3 linked regions of the Homo sapiens genome follow. The protein of the gene in region 1 purifies or fractionates together with the protein of each later gene. This does not show direct contact. Each region holds a gene or a part of one and is shown on either strand. Other genes may lie near its edges.

The links. The genes of interacting proteins can lie anywhere in the genome.
Region 2: the proteins of BRINP2 (region 1) and EDEM2 purify together in Homo sapiens (affinity purification with mass spectrometry; 2 studies listed by BioGRID and IntAct, with this or other methods). This does not show direct contact.
Region 3: the proteins of BRINP2 (region 1) and RDH14 purify together in Homo sapiens (affinity purification with mass spectrometry; 2 studies listed by BioGRID and IntAct, with this or other methods). This does not show direct contact.

The regions. Positions count from the first base shown.
Region 1 is NC_000001.11:177,166,526-177,173,964, reverse strand, and holds the start of BRINP2 (BMP/retinoic acid-inducible neural-specific protein 2 precursor), read right to left. Parts: upstream 3,008-7,439; 5' UTR 2,233-3,007; intron 1-2,232. UniProt on the Homo sapiens protein: Inhibits neuronal cell proliferation by negative regulation of the cell cycle transition.
Region 2 is NC_000020.11:35,137,315-35,144,351, forward strand, and holds part of EDEM2 (ER degradation-enhancing alpha-mannosidase-like protein 2 isoform 1 precursor), read right to left. Parts: intron 5,165-7,037; coding exon 5,059-5,164; intron 692-5,058; coding exon 566-691; intron 1-565. Other genes in the region: MMP24-AS1-EDEM2 (ER degradation-enhancing alpha-mannosidase-like protein 2), read right to left, coding at 566-691, 5,059-5,164. UniProt on the Homo sapiens protein: Involved in the endoplasmic reticulum-associated degradation (ERAD) pathway that targets misfolded glycoproteins for degradation in an N-glycan-dependent manner.
Region 3 is NC_000002.12:18,557,632-18,565,301, reverse strand, and holds the start of RDH14 (retinol dehydrogenase 14), read left to right. Parts: upstream 1-4,648; 5' UTR 4,649-4,729; coding exon 4,730-5,122; exon of another isoform or gene 5,123-5,126; intron 5,127-7,670. Other genes in the region: NT5C1B (cytosolic 5'-nucleotidase 1B), read left to right, coding at 1,183-1,506. UniProt on the Homo sapiens protein: Retinol dehydrogenase with a clear preference for NADP. Displays high activity towards 9-cis, 11-cis and all-trans-retinol. Shows a very weak activity towards 13-cis-retinol. Has no activity towards steroid.

The DNA of each region.
Region 1 (7,439 bases):
GAAAGAGTTGAATCACCAAAAATACACTGCGCAGTGGGGAAAACAAAACACTAACCAGGAAACCTCAACTAAGCATCCCAGTCAGCAGAAAGTGCCCACGCAGATGTCTCAAGTCCCTCCAGATTACCTCTTGTTTGTGAGTTGGGGAGGGATTTCAGAGCAGTGCCTCAAGGGAGTGTATCATTTTTCTGTGATGCTCTCCAGTGGCCAGCCTGTGTCTTGGGAAAGGGGATCAGGAGAAGGTGATGACACAGGGTTGTTCTTTGCCCTTTGGCCTTGTTCAGTAAACAACCTGTCAGGAGGCCAGAAAGGAGCACGTAGAAGATAATTTTGAGGGCCAAAAAGGGAAGATGCTCCCCATCTTTGAGACCAGCCCCATGCTGACAGAGCAGGAACCTTCCTCCTTCCCCAGCCCTTTTCTCCTCACCTCCTTTCTTGTGCCCACACTGCAGCACACATCACTCCATTCTGGGAGACAAAGCCAGCTCCATTTTTGGTGAAGAGGGGAAGTAAGAGTCAAGAATGCTCCTGTCTTCTCCATGGCTGCAGCCCAGCTGTCAAACACTTTGGCGCCAGCTGACCTCCAGAAGGGGAGACTATGGTGTGACATTTGCTTCCTTTATCTCAAATATTTCACAATATACATGCTCTGTGCCTTTTCAAATTATATCCTCCTCAAAGAAGCAAGGCATGCATCTTTTCCTAGAGTAGGCAGCAGCTCTGATATTGATAAGACAGGATCATTGTGGCAGCATGTCTCGGTCATGCCCTCAGTGCTGCAAAGCAACTTATTCTGGGTGAAGGGGGACTCCAGAGGGTCATGCCTTAAACAAATAACATACACACAACTGTGTGAGTCAGGAGGGAAAGCACACAAACTCCAGCATCACTTTGCTGTTGCCTGATGTCATCAGACTGCCCCCCGGGGGATTTGGTATACTTTAGTTGCTTGGTTAATACTGGCATTGCATGTATTTTAGCGAGCATGGTCAGAGAGAGTCACTTCAACATGCACATGTCTGGAGAAGGACAGAAGCAGAAATACTTGACTTATAATATACCTTTTATCCCTCTGATTGGTCTATGCTGACATAACAATGTCCCTGCTGAATAAGGCCTAGATTACCCAACTATAAGCTTGACCTTTTATAATTGTTATCCTTTTAACAAAACATTTGTTTCTGCTCATAGCACCCTGCTCCTAGGGCTGCAAAGAGCACACACACAATTCTTTACAGAGGGGTCTGTTCAATCACATTACAGTGCATTAGCTTGAACATTGGTTAACATTTGGCTTAGGTCTATATACCCTGGATAAATATGTACCATGCAGAGGGACTGCTTGGTGAGGAGAAGAGTCCTCTGGGCTGGAACAACAGCTCACAAGTTCGTGTTCCTACTAGGCAGGAACACTCCAGGCATCCGTGATTTGGACAGGGTGCTGGACATGCTTGGTTCTTCTGTGGGCAGCCTGTTTCCTGCATACAGCTGTGAGCACAAGCACACATACATACACACACCACAGGCAGCATTCGACAGTGTACCCAGATGATCACAAAAACAGAGACAGAGATCTGCTAGATGATACCAGCACATCCCACCTTTCAGCACAGCAATGTTCTTCCCTAGTGTCTCCAGTGCTCTGCCAGGCTCAAGTCAATCAATGGGGCTTCTGCCACCACCCTGGGGAGACTATTTGCAACCTACAGGGTTCACTGTTTGGAATTTTATTTTCCTGACTGCATGTGCATGGGAAACATGCCATAGGGCTCTATGAGCACGATAATATAGATATCGTGCATTGTAACCTCAGCTCTTTGGGCTCCTTCCCAAACATAATGAACCTCCCAGCGTCAGCTGGGCAGGCAAAAGTCCTCGTCATCTTCTGCAATTATGCAGCCCTATTGAATTTTCTGAAGCTAATAGGAGTTGCACTAACTTTGAGGACTTAAACCAGGCAAAAGCAATATAGGTCAGGCAGGGAGCCCAAACCCTCTGACAGCCATGCAACACCAGGAGGCAATACCAGAGCAATCTCTAGCTCAACCCCAAAGTCCATTGCTCAACTCCACAAGACAGAAACTAGGAGAGGTGGCATCATTCCCTCTGCCTGCCACTGCCAGGCACCAGGGCAAGAGGGTTGTATGAGAGCAAAATGGTCCCTTTACCAACGGACACACCAAAAAGGACAATGAAAAGGGGAGAAAAATCACCGAAACCCTGCACTGTTACCTTGAATCCTTGCAAGAGCCCTCCTTGCTGTATCAGCTGCTCCCCAAACCTTCAACGACTGGGAGGAGACTCCTAAAAGATTCCAGGTTTTTGTGCAACATCTCCAGTGGCAGCTTTCCAAAGTTTTTACTTCATGATTTCTTGTGGTTCTTTCTCATTTGGGGAAACGCGAATGCCTCCCCCTCAGCGTGTGAGAGGGAGCGGATGTCTCTTTTCAAATTCTCTTGCTCCCCGCTTTACTGTCGGTGCCGCCGCCGCCGCCACCGCCACCGCCGCCAACGTTAGACCACTTGCCTGCTGCCTTCCCGCTGAGCAGCCAGGATCCCGGTCTCCCAGAGCATCTTTGAAGTGGGGCTTCGGCACTGGGCCGGGGCGCACGCGGGGTGGGAGAGGTAAGGGAAGTGCAAGACCCAACTGGGGGAGTCCCCTGTCCCTCCGCCGAGGAGAAACCCAAGATTTTGCCTTCTTTCCAACTCTAAAGAGACTCACCCACCCGCTCTCTCACCCGAAATCACTGCCTTGCACATGGGCAGAGACAGGTCTTCCGGCTTCACCGCTCCCTCGGCTGCCTGCAGACCTGCCACTGACCTCGGAGCGCACGGCAGGTGCACATCCCCGGGCAAGTCCTAATGGGATCCTCCGAGCTCAGCGTAAGCGCTGCCAGCGCAGCGGCGAGCAGCTTGCGAGGCAGGCGGATTGCATCCCAGAGCTGCAGCCCGGCGCGTCCCCGCTCCGACTCCGCGCTCCGTACCTAAGCAGTGTCACCTGCAGACTCAGACACCAGATGAGTGTCTTAAGATAACAATGCTGCCCTGCCTGCCTCTCTCTTTCTTTCTTATGCATGTAGGTTGGCAGCCAATGGGACACAGCGCCACACTCCCCACAGGTGCCCATTGGCTGGGCGGCTTGGCAGGGGGCGGGCTCTGAGCCTCACCGCTCTCTCCTTTGGTGAGCTGGCAGGCTGGGGTACCAGCTCTGTTAACCCTCCCAGCGTTGCAGTGGGGACTTTTTGGTGTGTATAAGGAAGCCTTGGGTACATTCACGGGTGGGGCGTTGGACACTCTTAAAAAGGCTGGGGAACAAGAAGTAGCTGGGGAGCTAATTACATTTTCTTCTAATCTTCCTGAGTTACAATAATCATTTATCCCAGCCCATTTTGTTTGCTTGCTTAACTAGAACTCCCAGAGATTGGGACCCATCTGAGCCATTTTCCATCTAATTTGAGGTTTCATTTGGTTGTTTTGTGCATTTTTTAGCCTCTTGGATTACTTAATTAGAAATGAGCCCCCAAGTGAGAAATAGTACACACACACACACACACACACACACACACACACACCCCAGAGACCCAAGAGGAGAGAGAGGCAAAAGAGAGCAAGAACCCAGTAAGATGGCTAGAGAGTGAAACAGATTTAGAGGCCAGGACAGCTAAATCAGGAAACATTCTGCCCCCACACCAGGACTGTAAGGACAAAGGCAAAGAGGAGAACTTCAGGTTTCTGGGGAGAGATTAAGTTTCAAAAATGTCCCTCCAAAAAAGGGAATTGTTTTGCCTGTGGTGTTTTCCCTCTGTGTGTCTCCTTTCACTTCTGTGTGTGTCAGGAAGAGGGACTGTGCATCTCCGTTTAGTTTTTAAAGGAAGACTAGAGAAATCAGAACAGGACCAGCCTTGTTTCTGTGAAGCAGGTGCTGTTGCTGGGCCTGTGAATTGAAAGAGAGGGAGGGAGGAAAAAAGGGAGGGAGGTGGAGGGAAAAGGGAGGAAAGGAGAAGGGAAGAAAATATTAACTTTACATTGAAGTGTGAAGTATATATTTTTGATATCCTAATGAGGGTACAAAACTGAAACATGTCCCGCTAACTAGCATACTAAACTAGATTTTGGCAGGAGCATAGGAAAAAGAGTAATAGTTGAAGAAAAATCCAATTCAAGGGAAGAGCTGGGGGCTGGAGCTGGGGAAGGAACTTGGGAGATCCATGCTAAGTCATGTGGTGGGGGAAGTATGAAGAAGATAAATATATAGTCAGAAAGCGAGAGGAGTCTTTCAATTTAGTTTCCTTAAATGGAGAGCAACATCGGAGATTATTTTGTAAAGAACTAGAAAAAAAAAGTATGTAGAGATTTAATGAATGTGTAAGAAGTACACATGGAGATTAGCTAAACTGCATCAAGTAGCCGTAAGTTCTGAATGAATAAAGAAAAATTAGAAATTTTCTTCATTCATCCCCTCAGACTCACACATCTATCACTTTCACCTATATTTTCTTCTCTGTATCTTATACAACGTTGAACTTCCTTCTGCATACTGCAAGTATCTGTTTGCCTAAGCTACAAAACATGTCAGAGAATGGTGGTCCCACAGGGTCCTGAGCTCTCTTTCTAGAATAAAATAACCAAGAGAACCACTGAGAGCCTAAATCTATTGCTACCCAACTGCTGAGTTATTTACTTTTGTGATTTCTAGAGGCAGAGACCCACTGAACTTGTCCCAAGTGACAACATACTGAAATGTTAAAATAGCATAAGGGAGTGGGTAAATAGAGGGAGAGGTTGAACAAAGGATTGCTAATTTCAATGGAAAGAAAGTTAAAATTTCCAAAATCTGTAAAAGAGAGAGGAAAGAGGTGATGGCAGATAAGAAGACAACTTGAAAAAGAAAACTTGCTTGTACTTTCTTCTCCTATAAAGTCTGAAGCCGTGTAAAAAATTTTAAAGAGGCAGAATATACATTAAGAATTGCCACAAGTGTATAGTTTAATTCTTGCCTATATATGCATCAATGTAACCATTACTCACTTTATTTCCAGCACTGCAGGAAGCATGTTCGTGAACGTTCTCAGTCAAAACCCTCCACTCCCCAGAGATAATTATATTCTGACTTCCATCACCAAAGATTAATGTTACTTGCTCTTGAACTTTGTAAATATAGGATCTTAGAGTATACACTCTTTTGTGTCTTGATCCTTTCACTCATCATTTTGTCTCTGAGATTTATCCATGTAGTTGTATGTTTTATTGCGGTGCACCACTCTATTACATGACTACATGGCATTTATTCATTCTGTTCTTGATAGATATTTGGGATGTTTCTGGGGTTTTTTGGCTATTATAAGTAAACTTGTTATAAATGTTTTTGTGCTTGTCTTTTGGTGGATGTATGCAATCATTTCCTCTGGGAAAACACCAAGGACTATACATTACTTAATTTGCTTTGACTACTACACTGGAGAAAATCTCATGAAGATGACTCTGAAGCCTATTATCTTGCCAAAATAATTGAATAAGGTGATAGTGGCAAAGGCTATCGCTACTGAGTGCCAACTAAATGCCTAAAATGTGTCACATTGTTTACATACATAATCTCATTTCCTCCTCACAACCACCCCCAAAACTATGTATTATTCCTGTTTTGCAAATAAGAATATTGAATTTAAGACTTTGTATTAGGAAATAGCTCTTGCTTTCCTGAGTGTATGTGTATGTATATGTGTAGATGTTGGGGGAGATGTAAATAAATGCCCAGGGAATGGAGCTAAAAGAAGGGAAGTGATGGAAGTTCTCACTGCATAGGTGCAGCTGCAGATTAGCTTGGAGAGATGGGACAATCTGAAGAATAAAGAGTGTTGCACTTCAGGTGGACAGAATGTTATGGGAGGAGTGAAAATAGGAAATAGATTTTAATTTGATTGAGAGATGTGTGTGTCTGTGTGCACATGTGTGGTGGGAGGATAGAGATATAGTGCAGTGAGCAAACTATCTAAAAAACAGTGTGAGATTAGAAGAGTTTTAAAATTTCTAAACCATGGGTTTTCAGCTTTATCATGTAGAAAAAGAAAAACTAGAATGACATAATGAAAGTTAGATTTCATGAAGATCAACCTGGTAGTTGTGTACAGAATGCGTTGCTAGGAGGAAAAGGAATCAAAATCTATTTTAATAGTCAAGGAAAGAGGCCATTGGTGCTTAAATACAGGAAGGTGTATCTCAGGAGAAAAGTGAAGATTGGAGATAACAGCGCTTGCTGTTTTACAGTGTTTTAAAGAATAGAAATTTTCTGAGAATGAATAAATGCCATGTAGTCATGTAATGGACTAGTACACAGCAATACAATATTGAACTACATGGATAAATCTCACAGACATAATGATGAGTGAAAATATTAAGACACAAAAAAGCATATACTCTAAGATTCTATATTTATAAAATTCAAGAGCAAGTAACATTACTCTTTGGTGATGAAAGTCAGAAACATTTTCTGTGACCAGCAGGGGTGAGCGGAGATGATTGGCCCCTTTTGTTGATGGGGAACTAAAGACAAGAATGGTCCAAGCTTATCTCCAAATAAGAATATTATGAAGTTAAGTCTTGAATCCAGTTCTATTATTTCACTATATCATTATGCCTCTACACAAAGGTGATGATTGAGATGCATAACATTTTCCCCCATCTCCTCTAAATGTAAAACATCATGCATTAGAGATGGCCTGGTTTCCATGTACTTCAACCTTTACCCACATCTCTAGGTATTTAATTCCCTAAGAAAGGGCCATGTGACATTATTTCCATTTTTACAGGAATCAAGTACTCTGGAATAATATATTCTCTTTTAAAAAATTCTACTGTTTCTTTTGTTTGGTTTTGTTTAGAGAGGTCTAGAAAGACTTGAGATACCAACTACCAACTATGCCCAACTCAATATACATTTTAAGAAGACTAGATATTGACTTATTGGAAAATCAACCCTAAATGGTTTACTTGGGCTTTCTAACATGACTCAAGAATCTTCAGAAAATTAGAAAGAAAGATTTCAAAGTGACAGTAGATTATATGCTACTCAAAAGCAGGAGTAGTATTTTTCTGGCTGTGCTTAGCCTAATGCTTATGATACAGTAGGTACACAAACATTTGCTGAATTAATTACTGTGGTCCATAAAGCCCAGTGATTATCCATGGGTGCACCCTAGTGTACCATAACCATATAGTGGAAAGAGCAGTGGGCAAAGAAATCTTGTTCATGGTCTTAGCTCCATAGAAGATAGATCACTCTTTAATGGGTCTCAATTTCCTTATCTGTTAAGTGAGAGATTGGATGAATACATGATCAGGTACTTACATGCCATTTCTCACATTCTAGTATCAAGGGTGTGTTCCTGACATCCACTATAATTATTCAATGGCAAATAACCTTGCATAAGTAAGTTTAATACT
Region 2 (7,037 bases), on another chromosome or scaffold:
AGGCTGAAGCAAAAGAATTGCTTGAACCCAGGAGGCGGTGGTTACAGTGACTTGAGATTGTGCCACTGCACTCCAGCCTGGGCGACAGAACAAGACTCCATCACAAACAAACAAACAACAAACTATGAAGAGAAAGAGTGGCTTGGTCACGATGTTGGCTGGCAGAGCTGAGTCTAGAATCCAGGGCTGCTAATGCTCACACCAACACCCTTCCCTGGGCCCCTGTTACTCCAGCAGTGTGTGGAATAACTGTAGTACCTGGAAGGGGACAAATGGGCTCATTCAAAATAAGGGTAATGGCCTTCCACCCACCAGGCTGGCCACCTTCAACCATCCCCTGCAAACAATAATGAGGTCAACTCATCCATCCGGGTCAGGGCCCCAGCAGGCCCTTAAAATGCCCAGGACACTCCTGATTTCCATGGTGGGTGCCTGGTGGGTAGAAAGACCAAATACACCTGGTGAGAAATACCAGGAATTAATTCAGCACTGCCACTCTCATCTTCAGCAAGGGAAGCAGGACCTACTGGACTTCGTCTCTGCCCCATCTCTGTGTGGGTCTTACCTGGGAGGAGTTTTCGGGCCGCCTCCTCAGCCATTCTCAGGAGAGGCCCGGAACAGGGCCATCCAGCCTCTACTTCCACCCCAGCCTTCTTGGAGAGCAGATGAGCAGACAGGAGTCCTCCTACCACTACAGATGGCACAGAAAGCAAATGGCACAGTCCAAAGGGAAAGACCAAGGGATCAAGGATCTTTCCCCTGTGCGAGTTAAACATAAACACTCTATTGTGGGGCGCATGTTCTCAGGACCTCCTGAAGCTATTTCACGGGTAAAAACAAACAAACAAAAACCTCACTCTGTTGGGGTGGCTCACTGGGAAGGAGCTAGAGCCACCCAGCGAAAAAAGAGTCCCTTAATCCCACATATTTCTATGGTGTTAAGTTTATGGGGTTTTCTTCTCTTGGTTCATCACAGGAACAGTGGCTATTTTTTGTAAGTCCCTATTGTGTACCAAGCACTAAGTACTACTGTCCCCTCTTCGTATGAAGATACTGAGGTTCCATGAGATAAAGTGACTTGCCCCAGGTCACCCATCTAGTAGGTGGTAGGGCTGAGTATCTTTGATTCCAAAGCCCATGCTCATTCCATTTGTCACTCTGTCTGTCTCCCAGTCACCTGTCATACCTGGGGGGAAGGGGTAATGATGGTTATTACCTTTATTTTACTAATTTATCTATTTCAACTTATTATGCAATATGTAGAACTTTTTTTTTTTTTTTTTGAGACGGAGTCTCGCTCTGTCACCTAGGCTGGAGTGCAGTGGCGCGATTTCGGCTCACTGCAAGCTCCGCCTCCCAGGTTCACGCCGTTCTCCTGCCTCAGCCTCCCGAGTAGCTGGGACTACAGGAGCTCACCACCATGCCCGGCTAATTTTTTTGGATTTTTTTTTTGTAGACACGGTGTTTCACTGTGCTAGCCAGGATGGTCTCGATCTCCTGACCTCATGATCCACCTGCCTCAGCCTCCCAAAGTGCTGGATTTACAGGCATGAGCCACCGCACCCGGCCTACTTAGAACTTTTAAAAAGACACAAAGGTTCTTGGAAATACAGCTAAATAGATATCCTGAGTGGCCCTCTCAATGAAAATAACTGGTGACCCTAAGTTTCAAAATTCCCCTCCTCCCTGCAGAGGGGGAATAGGAGACCAAGGTCAGACCTGCCCCAAGTGGAAGTCTGATAAAAGGTCCCTATGCAGGCCAGGCATGGTGGCTCACATCTGTAATCCCAGCACTTTGGGAGCCGAGGTGGAGATCACGAGGTCAGGAGATGGAGACCATCCCGGCTAAAATGGTGAAACCCTGTCTCTACTAAAAATACAAAATATTAGCTGGGCGTGGTGGCAAGCGCCTGCAGTCCCAGCTACTTGGGAAGCTGAGGCAGAAGAATGGCTTAAACCCAGGAGGTGGAGGTTGCAGTGAGCCAAGATTGCACCACTGCACTTCAGCCTGGGTGACAGAGTGAGACTCCGTCTCAAAAAAAAAAAAAAAAAGTCTGGGCACGGTGGCTCATGCCTGTAATCCCAGCACTTTGGGAGGCTGAGGCAGGTGGACTGCCTGAGCTCAGGAGTTCGTGACCAGCCTGGTAAACACGGTGAAACCCTGTCTCTATTAAAAATACAAAAAATTAGCCGGGCATGGCGTTGTGCGCCTGTAGTCCCAGCTACTCGGGAGGCTGAGGCAGGAGAATTGCTTGAACCCAGGAGGCGGAGGTTGCAGTGAGCTGAGATCATGACACTGCACTCCAGCCTGGGCGACAGAGCGAGACTCCATCTCAGAAAAAAAAAAAAAAAGAAAAGAAAGAAAGAAAAGAAATCTACATGTATGTACCTTATGGTAAAACTGCAGAACACCAAAGGGAAAAATGATCTCGAATGCAGCCAGAATCCATGTAATAATAATTATTAATGCTGGGTGATGGGCACGTCTGGTTCATTATGCTATTTTCTCTACTTTTATGTTTGAAGTTTTCCATAACAAAAAGTTTTTAAAAGGAGAAGACAGCCAAAGTGAAAACCAAAACAAGATTCTCTACAAATAAATAATAATTACATTGACAGATTACTTCTTAACAATAATGAAACCAGAAGATAATGGAAAAAGTTTTTAACACAATAAGAGAAAGTAACCATCAACCTAGAACCATACACCCAGCAAAAATATCACTCAAAGGCCAACCAAAGGCAGTTGAATAAAGACATTTTCATATAAACAAAAGCTGGGAATGTTTATGAAGCACACACCTGCATTAAAGGAAATTCTAAAGGAAATACTTTAGAGAAAAGGTCTGAGACACGAAAAGAAAAAATAGTCAAAAAAGTGGTAAATAGGCCAGGCACAGTGGCTAAACCTGTAATTCCAGCACTTTGGGAAGCCAAAGCAGGTGGATCACTCAAGATCATGAGTTTGAGACCAGCCTGGCCAATGTGGTGAAACACCATCTCTACTAAAAATACAAAAATTAGCCTGGTGTGGTGGTGCACAACTGTAATCCCAGCTACTCTGGAGGCTGAGGCAGGAGAATCGTTTAAACCCAGGAGGTGGAGGTGAGCCAAGATCGCGCCACTGCACTCCAGCCTGGGTGGCAGAGTGAGACTCTATTTCAAACCAACAACAACAAAAAAAGTGGTAAATTTATGTGTAAATGCAAAACTTCAACAATATAGAACAAAAATTATAATGTATGGAAGGTTTAAAACAAATAACTAAAATATATAACTGTAGCATATAGGTCAGGATGTTCTCTAAGTCAGGTTTTGCATTATTCAGGAGGAGAACAAAGATTTTCATTAAATTTAGACTTTGATAAGTTATGTTTGTTAAATTTGCTTGGAAAACTATGTAAAAAGCTAGATATTGTGCATAATTTCCATATTAGTAAGAGGAAAATGGAATGGGGGGAAAACAATCTAAAGAAGGCATGAAAAAGGACAGAATAAAGGAACATAAAGAAGATGGCACAGGGCCAGGTGCAGTGGCTCACACCTATAATCCCAGCACTTTGGGAGGCTGATGGGGGGCGGATCACCTGAGGTCAGGAGTTCGAGACTAGCCTGGCCAACATGGTGAAACCCCATCTCTACTAAAAATACAAAAATTAGCAGGGCACGGTGGCAGGCACCTGCAATCCCAGCTACATAGGAGGCTGAGACAGGAGAATCGCCTGAACCCGGGAGGCAGAGGTTGCAGTAAGCCAAGATTGCACCACTACACTCCCGCCTGGGCGACAGAGTGAGACTCCGCCTCAAAAAAAAAAAAAAAAAAAAAAAAAAGAAGACGGCACAGAGAGCACAATACTGTAGAAATGAGTGCAAATATATCAGTAATTACAGTAAATGTAAATGGATTAAATGTGCCAGTTAAAGATTGTCAGAATGGATAAACAAAATATAATACACTATTTGCAAAAGATGTATCTAATCATAAAACTACAGAAAGATGGAAAGGATAGAAAAAGATACATGGGAAAATGTCAACCAAAAGAAAGCTGGTATCACTTATATTCCTATCAGAAATAAAGGTATAAGAATGACCTTCATTTACAGATGACAAACTGGGCTCAGAAGCTGGGAGACATAGCAGCAAGTACAGCCTCAAACTCAGGCCGGATTCCTAAACCAGGATTTTAGACCATGTTGTCCCTCTGCTCTCTTCTCTTTTTTAATCTTTTATGGATCATATGTCTGGAATATAAGTTTCATTGCAGAAAACATACAAAATAATGGGGAAAAATAGAACTCTGCCATCCAGAGGTGACAGCTGTTAAGTGGTCTAGAGGTTCGATGCAAATAAGGGCTGTGCTGGCTTCACAAGAATCACTGGAAGTCTGCTAAAAATACTGATTCTAGGACCCAACACAGAGATTCCAATTCATTAGGTTTAGGGTGGAGTCTCAACATCTGAATTTTTTAACCACTTGGGAGTGGTTCCTATGGGCTGCCAAGTTTGGAAGATTAATGCTGTAGATTTGCACTGTCCAATACAATAATCACTAACTACATGTGACTACTTAAATTTAATATCATTAAAATTAAATGAAATTAAAAATTCAATTCCATAGTTGTAGTAGATACATTTCAAATGCTCAATAGCTCATGTGGTTCGTGGCTACCATACTGGACAAAACACAGCTATAAGACATTTCCATCACTGCAGAAAATTGGATTGGACAGACAATAAGTTCCAAGAAGGCAAGGATCATATCTTTCTTGTTCATAGCTGTATGCCTAGTATCAAATACATATTAAAGAGGTGAGTAATCTGGTGTATTTCTTTCCAGTCTCTTAGTCTCCTGCTCACTTTCATATCTGAAACTGATGGGGAAATCCTGAGACTTCCCCACCTCACCCTCCAGGAGGGAAGAAGAGCTCTGTCGGTCAGAGGTTTTGGCCAAGGGTCCTGGCATGGTCAGTCCTTAAAATCCTATTTACCACTTCTTGGTTTACAGAGGCAACTTCACACTCTTTTTTCTTTTAAAGGTCCTAGAGAGCAGCCCTTACCTCGAATGTTTGTTTCAAACACAGAGGCGTTCACATCAATATCAAAGTCCACGCTGTCCTGGAGCACTTCAACCACTCTTTGGAATTCTGAGACATTCCCCAAAATCTGGAAATAAAAAAGAGACCTGACAATGAGGCTCTTACATGCATGGAGGCAGATTCAGAGTCTGGGATCCTATGTTGATGTGGCCCTCACTAATTCCACTTAAGACCTCCAGTTTCTGTCCTAGGATTGGTGACAGCAGAAGAAAACACTGAGAGCTAGAAATCATCTAGAGACTTCATACCAAGAGACTGGTTAAGTAAATTCCTAGGTCCCAATTAAGAGTCACGATGTTGTCATTTAAATGGACACAATATAAAGAACGCAAACTACGCATAGAAGTCTTAGGTTTTTTGTTTCGTTTTTTTGAGACAGAGTCTCGCTCTGCTGCCCAGGGTAGAGTGCAGTGGCGTGATCTTGGCTCACTTCAAACTCCGCCTCCTGGGTTCAAGCGATTCTCCTGCCTCAGCCCCGAGTAGCTGGGATTATGCACCACCATGCCCGGCTAATTTTTGTATTTTTAGTAGAGACGGGGTTTCACCATGTTGATCAGGCTGGTCTCAAACTCCTGACCTCATGATCCACCCGCCTTGGCCTCCCAAAGTGCTGGGATTACAGGTGTGAGCGACCGCACCTGGCCAAAAGTCTTAGTTTGACATTTGCAGTAGATACCAGTTGTCACCTTCAACCTTGTGGAAAACAGAACAGGTTGGTTGGCCCAAAACAAATTCATTCCTACCCTCTTTACCTCATGGCCTCCCACCAGAGGTTGGAAATCCAGAAGCTTTCTCGGCCTCCTTTGCTGCTGCAGTTGATTGTGTTACCCAGTCAATTCTGACCCTTGAGAGGTCTACTGGGGGCACTTCTGGGAAGGCTTCTGTTTTCTTAATACCAAGGGACAAACACAGCTAACATGGCTTTTAGTCTCTCTCTTTCTGCCTTGAACTCAGACTCGATTTCTGAAGTGATGGCAGCTATGTGAGACCATGACGTACTAAGCATTAGAATAAAAGCCAAAACACTAACGATACTAGAATGCAAAGCTACAAAGAGGCTGGTCTCTAATGACACAGTTGCGTAGCTGACCCAATGCTAGAAATTACCTCTAGACTTTCTTTTACTTGAGAAAATAAACCCTCTTTATTTAAACCGTTAGCCAAATGCAATCTCAATCTCTCTTCTTTTGATAGTAACATCTCAATTTACCCTCGAGGAATCACTCTTCCCCGGCAGTCACTCCTGTGGTTTGGGAGAGGCTGATCCCATCCCTCTAGCTGTGGAGTGGGTACTTGACCTGAACCAGTCCAAGTCTTTTTTTTGAGACAGGGTCTTGCTCTGTTACACAGGTTGGAGTGCAGTGGTGTGATCATAGCTCATCACAGCCTCGAACTCTGGGACTTGAGCAATGTTGGCCTCCCAAAGTGCTGGGATTACAGGCATGAGCCACCACACCTGGCCCTTTTTACCTTTCTAAGCATCAGGTTTCTTTTATATCTTTTTTTTGTTTGTGTGAGACAGGGTTTTACTCTGTTACCCAGACCAGAGTGCAGTGGTGCGATCTCGGCTCACTGCAACCTCTGCCTCCCTGACTCAAACAATCCTCCTACCTCACCCTCCTCCCTAACAAATGGAGCCACAGACATGTGCCATCATGCCTAATTTTTTATATTTTTGGTAGAGACGGGGTTTCACCATATTGCCCAGGCTGGTCTTGAACTCCTGTGCTCAAGCAGTCCTGCCGCCTTGGCCTCCCAAAGTGCTGGGATTACAGGCGTGAGCCACTGTGCCCATCCCTAAGCATCAGGTTTCTTAACGATAAGAAGGAGTAAAGGTACTAACCTCAAGAAGTTGTTAGAAGAATTAATACATGTCTGTACTAAGCCCTACAGAAACATACTAACTAGTCACTGATATTATTTCTTTATAATTTTTTTTG
Region 3 (7,670 bases), on another chromosome or scaffold:
AAATGGTCATATAATATACTTAACCATAGAATTAAAACTAAAACAACCGTACAAATGAACAAATTTGTATGATGTACAAATTATGTAACTAACAAAAAATGGAAAAATATGGGGAAAGAAGGTCTACGGAAGAAGTATGCTGGAATTTTCAGTTACAATAGCCAATCAAAGGATGAAATGTAAACTTGATAAACAGAAATAAAACAAAATGTAATAATGCAAAAGAAACACCAAGGAAAAGTAAATAAATGACTAAAATTAGATGGTGGAGAAGAAATAGAGGACTACAGAGACATTGAAGAAATGCCCTGCTTTCATTATTTCTCATTATGAAGAATAATAGATCTGGGATTCTTTTTAAAATAGAGGACTGAGGGTACTATAAAAGGTTATAGTTGTAAAGGTAATTTATAGAAGGAAATAATGTAAACCTTCTTAAATGTCAGAAGAACCACCCACACACAACTACAAAGAAGAAAGACACAGATTATTGAACAATCCTTTAAAAATTTTAAAACATGGAAAATGCAATAAAAACCATAAGACAGAAACAATCTCAAGTATGTTTGTAATATGAATAAATGTAAATGAACAAAAACTTAACTATTGTTTTAAAAAATAAGATTTTCAGGTTGTATCACATAGCAAAATCCAATTCTAGGCTCTGTACAAGAGATACTAAAACCAAGTGTTTGGAAAGGTTAAAAATGAAAGACACAGTTAGATTCAAGCCAAACAGCATTAAACTAGACAAAAGCATATACTTCATAAAGTTAAAATGCACAATTCACAAAAAGCAAATTAAAAGAGTAGTGCTTTGGTAACTAATTAGAGTTTATTTAGAGTGACCCTCTATTCCAGCTTACCATGGATAGTTTATGTCTGTTGTCCTGGCTTAAGTATTTATTGAACATTCTTTCATACCTAAAGTATATAGGTTTACATGTTAAATAATATGGTCATTTTAGGCACATTCCAGGAATGCAAGGATGGTTCTATATCAGAAAACATATTCACATAAATTCCTATCAAGTTTTAGCATTTTGCCATCAGCTTCATAACACTGCATGTCATGCTGTATTATATCCTTTGTATTGTATCGTATCATATAGGTCTCTGCTTTTTAGCATTCACTTTCTTTGGCTCACTGTATCACAGCTGTGATATATGTTCCTTTTACAGGGTCCCCTAAAAGGCTTTCTGGAAGATTTAGGCAGACTGCAAAAGAAGTTCTATGCCAAAAATGAACGGTTACTTTGTCCTATCAGGACCTACCTGGTTACAGCTAGGAGTGCAGCCAGTTCAGGCGCCCGTGTGCTGAAGACCCTTCGACGCTGGGGTCTAGAGATAGACGAAGCTCTTTTCCTTGCTGGAGCCCCCAAAAGTCCCATCTTGGTGAAGATCCGGCCCCACATCTTCTTTGATGACCACATGTTCCACATTGAAGGGGCACAGAGGTTAGGTTCCATCGCAGCTTATGGCTTTAATAAAAAATTCAGTAGTTAGGGGCAGGGAGGAGAAATAAAGTGGTGATAGTCTGGTGTTACAGAAGCCACTTCTTTTGGCTCTCTAGGATAATTAGATAGGTATTTCAGAAAATTGGACCTTAAAACTTTGCTTCTTTGGAAAGGTTTTCTCCTGATTTTTTGGAAAACCTTTTGAACCCTCAAGTTACCATCAAACTACTTCTCTTTGAACTACCAATACTGTTGAATGCCATTACACCTATCTCTGTGTAAGTCATAATGATGACTCTTTAGGATAAGTTTAGAACTTGAATATTTGCATGCTTAAGGCACTGTTTTAGAAGCTTACTTAGTTTTATAAACACTGCTCATTTTTGGATGTTTGTAGATAACAATGAATTGTTACCCATCAGCATTGTAGAATAGTGTCTTCAAAGGTAGAAGGAGTATGGTTAAGCACACTCTTGAAAACTGGAGCTTTGTATTCTGTGACTGCTATGGCTAGCTTTGTAACCAAAGCAAAATGAGAATTTCACTCTACCTGCATGAGTATAACAATTTTGATACTGCTCATTTAGAAATAAATCATCTGGTTGTTCCTCCAGGGTACTTTCTAAGATAAGCCTTAAACAGAAACCCCTAAGAAAGGTTCTCTGAAAATTATTTGGTGGGTTAAATGCCTCTGATCCACAGAGTTTCATATTTGAAGTCTCCGGCTTTGGGCCTGGCAGGCTGGCACATCCATATTTGTATGGAAAAAAAAAAAAAAGACCCTACGCTACCACTTCAAAAAGTGACATGAAGTGTAGTATCCTGGCCCTTCATTGTCATTCTCTCATGATTTTTGTTTTGTTTTCAACAAAAATTGGTTGGTCATTAAATATATCATATGTTAGGCACAGTGACCTGGTTATTTTCACATGTTACTTCATTTTCTTATCAAATTAAATGTTTGTGACATAGTATTATTATTACCTTCCTTTTTATCAATGAGGAGCCTAAGATTCAAAAAGATTAGACAGCTTGTTTAAGGATATGGAGCTAATAAGTGTTAAGACTAATTAGATTCAAATTCAAATCTTACTTCATAAGTTATAATGAGGTCTCTTTCCTCCCTTCCAAATAGAGTTATTAATTTCATGGCCTTTGGACCCATCTGGTACAGATTAATCATTTCATTAAGTTCCATGCATAAACTACACAGCAGTTACACTGCAGGTCTAAGGATTCCTCCCTCCTCTTTTCCTCCTACCCTCTCCTGCTCTCTCTACCTCCACCTTCATCTCTACTCCACCTGTACATATGTATTCCACCCCTGGCTCTAGATGAGAGAAGACCACAGCTGAAACACATCTTCTGATGCTCCCTAATTTTATGTAAACCAGTCCAAAATATATCAGTTGTGACATGTGACACTGAGTACCTACCATTTTGTAGGTGTCCTCCCATGCAAAGACCACAAGAGGTACGCAGACACAATCCTATCCTCTAGGAAACTTGAAACCTTAACAATCTGGTCAAGGAAGTCAAATGTGCAAACTCAAACAGCCAATACTAGAAGGCTGTTTGTCTTCAGTGCCAGTGAGGGTCACACATGACCCTGAGGGTCACACATGAAGGGAGCAGAGATCTTTATAGGCTGGAAGTGGTCAGGAAAGAAAGACTTGAGGTAGCCTGTGATTTTGATGGATGGGCAAGATGTGGATGGGTAGAAAGGACAATAAAGTGGAAACATATGCTGGGGGATCAATGAGTTTGAGTAGCAGCTTCAAATTGGGGATAGGGTGGTGTAGGACCACCTCTCATGATTCCTGTTCCTGGTGCCTTGTATAATCCCCAGTAAGAGTGCTCTTTCCCACCTCTGAGCTCCATTCTCATTACTCATAAGAAACCTCCTGGAATCCATCCCTTTTTCTTTGTATTCTGACTATTAGTTGCATGTTACATCCTTCCCAAATGTAAGGGAGTGGAAGATGGATTATCACAATTATTGGGGAGTTTGTCTCAAACGACACAAGCTGTGGTTCTTTTTCCTTGTCTGGAGAACCTGCAATGGGTGGAGGGTGGGAAGTGGGAGATCACAGTTCCAGAAAGTAAGCACCCTGAGAGCAGAAATGGTGTCCCATTTCTCTGTGGCTCTAACAGGGAACAGGCAGGGCCAGGCACATATTGGATGGAGAGGCAGACGAACGAATGAGTCTTTAAAAGTAGCTTGGTCTACAGCTATGAAGTTTGTAGCTTGAAGAAGGGTCCCTGTGACACTAACCCTGATATTAATGAGGCATTTTACAGTGAGCCAAGCACTTTGCCTTCCATCGTTGTGTGTAATAGTCCTATGGAGAGGGCAGGGAGGCATTTGTAAATGGCCTGCTCAGAAGCCTATATTTACAATAAGTCCAAGCTTTTCCCACTGTACCTCTGCCAGTGTGAAGATCATTTGAAGATGGCTTTCTTTTTTTTAATAGGGACCAATGACATAATGTCTTGTTCAGTGGTTCTCAAAGTGTGGTTCCCAGATCTGCAGCAGCAGCAGCACCTGGAAACTTGTTAAAAGTGCAAATTATCAGGCCCCATCCTGTACCTATTGAATTAGAAACTCTAATACTGGGGCCCTGGTTTTTTGTTTTCGTTTTGTTTCATTCCCCCACCCCGAACCCCCACCCCAAGTCCTCCAGGTGATTCTGATGTGCATTTAAGTTTGAGAACTACTCGACCATTCTATTTCCAACTGATTCATGTTGCTTAATTCTTTGTCTCATCTATGAAAAACAGTCCTACCTCAGACTTCAGCTTGTCAGGGCCCATTCCTCAGAAGGTGAATTGAACTGAATTTACAAGTCCCAAGAGCCCTCAAAGGAAAACACACGAAATGCCCTGAGGAGTGGCATTTGTAACAGGGCCTGTACAGAGATCTGTGATTCAAAGTACTCATCAGACATTCCCATGGGGAAGTCCGCCACTACTCTGGGATTTCAATACGTATGAACCCCAGCACCCTGAACACTGTGCTGGTTGCCCAGCCTCCATCATTAGGCTGGGAGGAGCTTCCACGGAGGGCGCAGGACCCAGGGCGCTGAACTCTCACAACCAATCAGGCGACCCCCCCAGAGGGAAACTACAAGTCCCAGCATGCCCCACGCGCACCGTCAGGGGCCGACCCGCCGCGCCCCAGCGTTCTCCGCGTACAGGTGGTCTCTTGGGTTCCGGTAAGGCGGCGGCTGCGGAACTCCCGTGGAGGGGCCGGTGGGCCCTCGGGCCTGACGATGGCAGTGGCCACTGCGGCGGCAGTACTGGCCGCTCTGGGCGGGGCGCTGTGGCTGGCGGCCCGCCGGTTCGTGGGGCCCAGGGTCCAGCGGCTGCGCAGAGGCGGGGACCCCGGCCTCATGCACGGGAAGACTGTGCTGATCACCGGGGCGAACAGCGGCCTGGGCCGCGCCACGGCCGCCGAGCTACTGCGCCTGGGAGCGCGGGTGATCATGGGCTGCCGGGACCGCGCGCGCGCCGAGGAGGCGGCGGGTCAGCTCCGCCGCGAGCTCCGCCAGGCCGCGGAGTGCGGCCCAGAGCCTGGCGTCAGCGGGGTGGGCGAGCTCATAGTCCGGGAGCTGGACCTCGCCTCGCTGCGCTCGGTGCGCGCCTTCTGCCAGGAAATGCTCCAGGTGTGGGCCTCGGGGGGCCGGGCTGGTGGGGAGGGCCTGGGCACGGTGTGGGAGGGGACTGCGGGCTGGGGCTGAGCCGCGAGGGACCGCCCTGGGGTTCAGGGTGTCACCTTGGGAACCGCTGAGGCTGAGAGGAGTCCAAAAAGCCACTTTGAGGCGGCCGGGAAGCTGCAGGGTTGAGAGGGAAAGAGAAACTAACTGGGAGGGCTGCCTTCTGTCCTCTAAGGATGTCGAAAAAGAAATGGGCCCAAGAGAAAAATAAATAAACCAGTTTCTGAACGTTTCATTTCGTTACGTGAGGACCGCCCCGAAGTAGATCCATGGCCTCTGAATTGTTTTTCCTGTGTCAGAAGTGAATTTGCACCAAGCTGTGTCTTCAGAACCCCTGAGCACTGGGGGAAGTTGCTAGCTAAGGACCTCATATCAGTCCTTTAAAAAAAGTTCTCCTTCCCCCGGCCTCTGCCCCTTTTCTGCTGGGGTAAGGAGCTCGCTGCCACCAGTAAACTCAGCACCATCCTTAACGGGACTGTGGCCTGATTTCCAAGTAGAATACATTTTGGAACCCAGTGGTCATGCTCCATACAGAGACAGGAATAAAAATAACACCCAGCATTATTGAAGATCTGTATGCCAGGAGCTGTGCCAAGCATTTCAGATTTTCCTTTTTGTCTTAAATGAAAATGAAGTGTCCTTGCCTATAACTGTCATTGAAGCTACACAGTAACCCTGTGGAGTAGGCATTATTATCATCCCTGTTTTACAACGCGAGGAAACTGAGGCATAGGAAGGCTAAGAAACTTGCTTGTGGTCTGTCTCCAGAACACTTGCTTTTAACCCTTGTTCTTTCCTCCTGCTGCCTGGCAGTGAGGTGTGAGGATTTCTTTGTGCAAATGGTAAGTAATTCCACATAAGTGGATGTTCTCCGTTGAGATTGAGGTAGAAGAGTTTCTTGCAGGGATAACTGGCATTCAGAGGGCATTTGTTCAGAAGAGTGAAATTTAAAATTAGCTGGGACAAGAAAGGTGCCTATATGACGTAGAGTCTCTTGAGTCTAGAGAAGAGGTTCCCAAATTTTCTCAGTAATTTTTTCATGATGCCCTTAGGCCAGAAATATTTCCCAGTTCATTTATTTAGAAAGTTTATTTTGCCAAGGTTAAGGATGCACCCGTGGCAGAACCTCAGGCGGTCCTGAGGACATGTGCCCAAGGTGGTCGGGGCACAGCTTGGTTTTATACATTTTAGGGAGACATGAGACATCAATCACATATGTAAGGTATACATTGGTTCTCCTGGAAAAGTGGGACAACTCGAAGTGGGGGCTTCCAGGTCATAGGTAGATGGGAGACAAAAGGTTGCATTCTTTTGGGTCTTTGATTAGCCTTTTACTGAATACAATTTACATGTGCAGGAGGGATAGAGGAATAATCACTTATGTCTTAGACTGGCTCAGTGAGTCTGCATTTTCACATAAACAATACGGCAGAGTCAGCAATCAGATAAGCATTTATCTCAGGTGAGCAGAAGGATGACTTTAGAGTTCTGTCTTTTGTTTGGCACTTGTGAAGATGAGCTATCAATTTATGAATACATTGCCAGGGTGAAATTCAACAGAAGTGTTTTAGGGTAAAGATCTTGAGGCCCATGTGGGCAAATTATGAGGGTGATATGTAGCTTCTTTTTCTTTGTAGCTATCTTATTTAGGAATAAAATGGGAGGCAGGTTTGTCTGAGGCAGTTCCCAGCTTGACTTTAACCTTTGACTTAGTGATTTTGGGTTCTGAGATTTATTTTCCTTTGACACAACCTAATAAGTAGTTATGTCCTAACAACTTAGTAGCTATTTGAGAAGATAACATAATTGAAAGAAAAAAATAATATGTTTATTTTGTTCTTAAACAGCCATAACTACTAATGGGAAATGTATCTCTGTTGGTCATTACACCAGTGTCTGAAACCTTGGAATCAGATTGGACACTTCCACCCTCATTTCCTGTTCTAGGTAGATTTTTAGCATTGTTCTTGTTTTTTATTACAGCAACTGCTAACAGCTGCTTAAAAGTCAGCTCCACAAAGAAATAATGTCATTGAAAGGAATATAGCACAATGTAATGTTCAAGCTGTGAACCACCTGGAGCTAGTAGTTTTGAGGTATTGAGCAAATATCACTGTGTTTCCCTCGAAAATTTAAAATATTCCACAACACCCTGAGAGTTTGCTGCAATGCTGTAGGCCACAGTTCGGGAGCTGTTGCAGAACTAGAGAGTTGGTTTTTTGTTTATTGCTAGTATTTAATTATGTGTAACACAGGTTAAGAAATAATACTCATCAGTGAGATTTTGGAAGCATTAAAGATGGATCTTTCTGTTCCTCTTTAAAATATAGATGGGGCTGGGTTTGCTTCTTTGGCACTTGAGGCAGAACTAATTAAAAAGTGAGGACACAAAGAGATAATTAAGTTGTCCTTGCTTCTAAGTAAGTATTTCTGTTCCTGCCTGGCTCTGAAGTTAAGTGACTATAATTAGAAGGAAAAAAAAATGGAAATGTAGATT